Linked DNA regions of Homo sapiens: region 1 is linked to region 2. Evidence: fine-mapped expression QTL. A gene starts in region 2. The other region holds a variant in brackets. All regions are shown on one strand. Distances are between the middles of the regions. Region 1 has its middle 75 kb from the start of FGD2. Region 2 holds the start of PIM1 (Pim-1 proto-oncogene, serine/threonine kinase).

The links.
Region 1: its variant is fine-mapped to the expression of PIM1 in neutrophils (BLUEPRINT, PIP 0.95).

What each region holds. Positions count from the first base shown.
Region 1 is chr6:37,079,530-37,082,536 of GRCh38, reverse strand. No RefSeq gene overlaps it. Among named protein-coding and RNA genes, the nearest start is that of FGD2, 75 kb to the right of the region's middle. The variant G/A (reference allele first, on the strand shown) is at 1,338.
Region 2 is chr6:37,168,855-37,171,354 of GRCh38, reverse strand. It overlaps PIM1 (Pim-1 proto-oncogene, serine/threonine kinase), which reads right to left and starts at 1,203. Exons shown (of 6, transcript NM_002648.4): 1 at 698-1,203; 2 at 476-582; 3 at 324-374; 4 at 1-230. The coding sequence starts at 779. RefSeq lists silencers at 375-694, 955-1,734 and an enhancer at 1,360-1,958.

The DNA of each region.
Region 1 (3,007 bases), 89 kb after region 2:
GAGACAGGGTCTCACTATGTTACCCAGGCCAATCTTGAAATCCTGGGCTCGAGCGATCCTTCTGCCTCGGCCCCTCAAAGTGCAGGGATCACAGGCGTGAGCCAACGCACCCAGCCAGCCTGTGAACTTTTTTAGGAGAAATTTTTATAGCTACAGATTCATAGTCCTTTACCTGAAACCCTTGGGGCCAGATAGGTTTCCGAATTCAGATTTTTTCACCGTTTAGAAAAAAGCCATGGTGCGCACACTGTATATTATGAAATACCCACCGCAGGATCTGGGGCAGCACCTGGTAAACACATAAATATTTTTAAGCAAAGTCCATGAATATTCACACACTAAATGGTGTAAATAAAGGCTGTAAATAGCCTTGCGTCAGTTGGAGGCCATTTTGTTGCCAAATAAGTTCATGTCAGGTTAAGTTCTGCAGTCAAATGTGTTATGATAAAACTTGTTTTATCATATGGTTTTCAGAAGTTCAGGGATTTTGAAATTGAGAATAAGGGATGGTGGACCTGTTAGTTTTGGACAAGCCTTTGGCTGTGTGGGAGACAAATCCCGAGTAGTCTCCCACGCAGAGGGAAGGTTGCAGAAACCCGCTGCCTCACAGGGGTATGGACTGCACTGTCCACCAGGACAGCCTCTCCCAACCACAGCTCTCAGAAGGTCCAGACGTGAACTCCTGACACCGAAGGCACATCTTTGCTGGGTGGGTATTTTCCTGGGATCTCTACCTTTGCTTAGATTTTCAAAAGAAACCTAATACTTAAATACGGTCTAGAGCCCCAGCTAGAAAGAGTCCTTGAGATCAAAGAATTGCTTAGCTAGAGCCCTCAGTTATAGACCTGAGTTTGTTTCTAAGGGACATGAGTCTCAATTAATTGACGTTTCAGTGATTGGCAGGGGAGGGGAGTGAGAAGGGGCAGACATTGGAGATTGAGAGTGTGGAGAAAGATGGGGCAAGAGAAGTTAGGATGAGTGTGAGGGGAGCCAAGAAGAGAATACACACAGGTCTCCATGCAGGACTGAGCACGGGAGAGATCATCCCAGGGGCTGGGGGTTATGTCTTCAGTTTAGGAGCCTGCATGGAGCATCTACTATGTGCAAGGCGCTGGGGATGCAAAGATGAATAAGAGCTGCTCCCTGACAGTGATACCTATTTATGACTGTATTGCTCCTCTCTGAAGAGCTCTCTTTTCATTTCCTCCCTCCCTTCTCCACCCCACCTCCCCACCAAAGAAAACACACACACAGCCAGGAGTGGCCTTGAGGTTCAGGCCACAGGCTCCAGACCTTTTGGGCTCTTTCCTCCACTCCCAATCAAAGTGTCCGGGTCC[G/A]GGGGATCACGTGAGGCCAGGAGTTTGAGACCAGCCTGGGCAACATTGCGAGACCCCATCTCTACAAAAAATTTTTTCTTTCTTTCTTTCTTTTTTTTTTTTTGAGACAGAGTTTCCCTCTTGTTGCCCAGGCTGGAATGCAATGGCACGATCTTGGCTCACTGCAACCTCTGCCTCCCAGGTTCAAGTGATTCTCCTGCCTCAGCCTCCCGAGTAGCTGGCATTACAGGCATGCAAGATCACGCTTGGCTAATTTTGTATTTTTAGTAGAGATGGGGTTTCTCCATGTTGGTCAGGCTGGTCTTGAACTCCTGACCTCAAGTGATCTGCTCGCCTCTGCCTCCTAAAGTGCTGGGATTATAGGCGTAAGCCACCTTGCCCAGCACAAAAATTTAAAAATTAGCTGGTGTGGAGGTAGCACACCTATAGTTCCACCTACTCAGGAGGCTGAGGCGGGAGGATGGCTTGAGCCCAGGAGGTTGAGGCTGCAGTGAGCTATGATCATGCCTCTGCATTCCAGCATGGGTAGAGCAAGACCCTGTTTTTGTTGTTGTTGTTGTTGTTTTCAGACGGATTTTTGCTCTGTCGCCCAGGCTGGAGTGCAGAGGCTCAATCTTGGCCCACCACAACCTCCTCCTCCTGGGTTCAAGCAATTCTCCTGCCTCAGCCTCCTGAGTAGCTAGGATTACAGGCACGGGACACCACATCCAGCTAAGTTTTGTATTTTTAGTAGAGACGGGGTTTCACCATGTTGGCCAGGCAGGCCTCGAACTCCCGATCTCAGGTGATTCACTTGCCTCGGCCTCCCAAAGTGCTTGGATTACAGGTGTGAGCCACTGCGCCCAGCCGACCCTGTCTCTTAAAAAAAATAAAAAATAAAAAACCTGGGTCCTACATCCCATGTTGACAAAGCCCCTTGTAAAGGAAGGAATGCATTCTTTGCTGACAGTAATGTGCAGTTCATCAGGTGATAATGTTGATTAGAGGCATGGAGTGGTGTCACTGGAGTCTAGTTTCTCCCCATTACTTAGTTGTGCGACCTTGGGCAAGTCTCCTGCCCTGAGCCTTAGTTTCCTTATCTGTAGAATGAACTTAAGTCTATACTCCCTGCTTCACAAGGGTGTTGTGAGGATCAAAGGGAAGAATATGGAGGAAGACATAAGTGGTAAGTCTTGCCCATGTCTGAGCTATGCTTGTGATGTGCTTACTGTATTCCCACTTAAACAGGGAAGCTTCATTCTGCACTTTAGCACCTCAGGGATTGTACAGATTCCGTCCCCCTGCTAGGCACCTAGGGGCGCTACAGGGCTGTATGGCCTCATAGGTGACCCAGGAACAGATTCTCTGCACCCCAAATGTGGTTTCACTCTCTGGTTGCAATGGTTCTTTGGAAAATAATAGTTGTTCATTACAGTGTTGTTTATGATAGGCCAAGAAAAGTTATTTTTCACTACAATCCCCAAGCCCAGTGTAGTACAAGTGCTCAAGAAATGGATAAAGACTCACAGACCACACTTCCCATCCTCCTCAATGCCTCCTTTTGTGCTAATGAGGTAGACCCCTTCCCTAGCATGCAAGGATTAAATAAGGAGCTGGGGCAAGAGCCATGTGTAGCCTAGAACCTGAGAGTTTAAAATGGTCTTCAACATGAGCAACAGTCCTATTCCTTG
Region 2 (2,500 bases):
TGCCGCACGGCCTCCAGCACCTGCCAGAAGAAGCTGCGGGCCAGCTCCTCTTGCAGGGCTCCCCTTTCCGTGATGAAGTCGAAGAGATCTTGCACCGGCTCGGGCCTCTCCAGGATCAGGACGAAACTGTCGGGCCTCTCGAACCAGTCCAGGAGCCTAATGACGCCGGAGAAACCCGAGCTCACCTTCTTCAGCAGGACCACTTCCATGGGCACTCGAGTGCCATTAGGCTGCAGGGGCGAGGGGGCCGCGTTAGGGCGGGAGTCGGGGGCGCCCCTCACCCCACCCACTCATCCTGGGGGTCGCTCCTGCAGGGCACTCACCAGCTCTCCCCAGTCGGAAATCCGGTCCTTCTCCACGTGTTTGATGGCCACCTGGAAGCCCAGGGTCTCCGTCAGGTTCCCTCGTCCGGGCTAAAGCACGCCCGTGCGCCCCCCGCCCGGCGCGCCCTCCCCACCGCGGGGCGCCCACTCACCGGCAAGTTGTCGGAGACGCGGATGCCTGAGTAGACCGAGCCGAAGCCGCCGCTGCCCAGTAGCGGGCCCACCTGGTACTGCGACTCCAGGGGCTCCTTCTCCTTGCCTAGGAAAGGGGGAAGCACGGGGACTCAGTGCCGGCCCGCGAGCCGCCAGCTCCCCACCCAGGAGATCCCGCCGCCGCCCCGCATCCCCGGGCCGGAGGCGGGGGGTGCTCTCACCGGGCGCCAGCTTGGTGGCGTGCAGGTCGTTGCAGGGCGCGGCGCGCAGGTGGGCAAGCGAGTTGATTTTGGACAAGAGCATCCCAACCTCCAGGATGTCGGCGCAGGGACGGTGCCCAGAGGAGCTGCCGCAGGAGCCGGAGCCGGGGCTGTGCCGAAGGCTATGCCTGGGGCTGTGGCTGTGGCTGTGGCTGCGGGTGGCGTTGCGGCTGTGGCTGCGGCTGGCGCGGAAGGCCGAGGGCGAGTCGGAGGACAACTGAGGGCGCTGCCGGGACTGGCGGCGGGAGGGCGCGCCAGCGGGGTCGGGCAGCGCTGAGAACGGCGGGGTGAGCGGCTCGTGGGGCTCGTGCGGCAGCGCCGCGGGGCAGGAGGCTAGTGGTTGCTGCTGCTGCTGCTGCTGCTGCTGCTGCCGGTCCCGCCGCCGCCGCTGCCACCGACTCCTCTCGGGCCTCCTCAGCCACCGCGGCCGCTGCAGCAGACGCCCGGCTCGCCCCGCAGCCAGGAGTAAAGGGGAGGAGCGCGCCGGCGGGGAGGGCGCGCGGGGAGGGCGCGGCGGGCGGGGACGGGGCGGGGCCTCTCCGGGAGGCCAAGGCGGGGAGCAGGGCTGCCGGGCCGGCCGAGGGAGGAGAGGGGGTGGGGAAGCGGCGGGACTGGGCGACTCCCCTCGGCCCCCGCCCCGCGCGCTCTGTGGCCGCGCCCCGGCCCCGCCCCTGCCAGCGCTACTCCAGCCAACCAGAGGCCGATTGATCTGCATAACTCGGCGCGCCCCGCCCCCGCCCCGCCCAGCTCTCGCGGTCAGAATGGTCTCTACGCCGCCACGACGTGGCGGGAAGGAAAAGGCGCCAAAATGGAGGGGGAGGGGCGCGGGGCGTGAGGGGAGGCGGGAGCTGGGTGTAGGGCCGCGAGGGAGGAAGGATGGGGAGGGGCGTATCGATTCAAACCCAAACAATAACAAAGCCATCAAAGGCCGCCCGAGGCCGGCTCTGCGGCTCTCCGTTTCGCTGAGGGTTTTGGGTCAAGGGCTCGAGCCGGAGCATAACAAGTTGCGCGGAGACGACGGGCGTTAGTGTGTCAGGCGGGGAGGCCGGCGCGCCGGGTGTCGGACTGTGTGTGGGGATGCCGACGAGGGTGGTCTTTCTGTGTGACTCAGACCCGAGACCTCCAAGTCGGCTGGGGCGGGCTGACGTCGCGCTGTAGGCTGGGGGCGGATTCTGGGGGTTTGTGTGTTGGGGGGCGCGTCGGGGGCGAAGGATCCGCAGGACATGAGTCACGGAGGGAGTGGAGGAGTCAGGCCTGGAACAGAACTGGAGGCGGGAGCCCCGCTCCTGCGGGAAAGGGATGCAGCCCTCAGTCGTTCCGGCCGGCTAAAAGCTCAGCCACGGGATTCCCATTTTAGAAATGCAAAAGCACCAGCGAATCCTGATTTCTGGGAAGGGATGTGTGTCAAAGGGCCGGGTAAAGAGGAAATCACGAAGCAAATGTTAGTGTTGTGATGCCAGATGCTGCCTCAGCCCCTTCTGTGAGGGCGGAAAATTCCTCATCTAAAACGAGGGTGGGAGGGTGCGCTTGATTTAACCAGTTTTCACGTTGTAGTCACCTTTTCATCAGCCTGTTATTACCAGGCAGGCAATACCAGCAATTATTGGCCAACCCCAAGTCTTGTCTCAAAGGAAACCCCCCACCCTCTGCCTCCCTTGGAAATAACCCGGAACACTGACCAATTCCACTTGCATCCTTTGTCCTTTTAAACTTCATGTAGAGTTGATAACGACGTGTGAAATGAGTAAATTAAAATACTATATA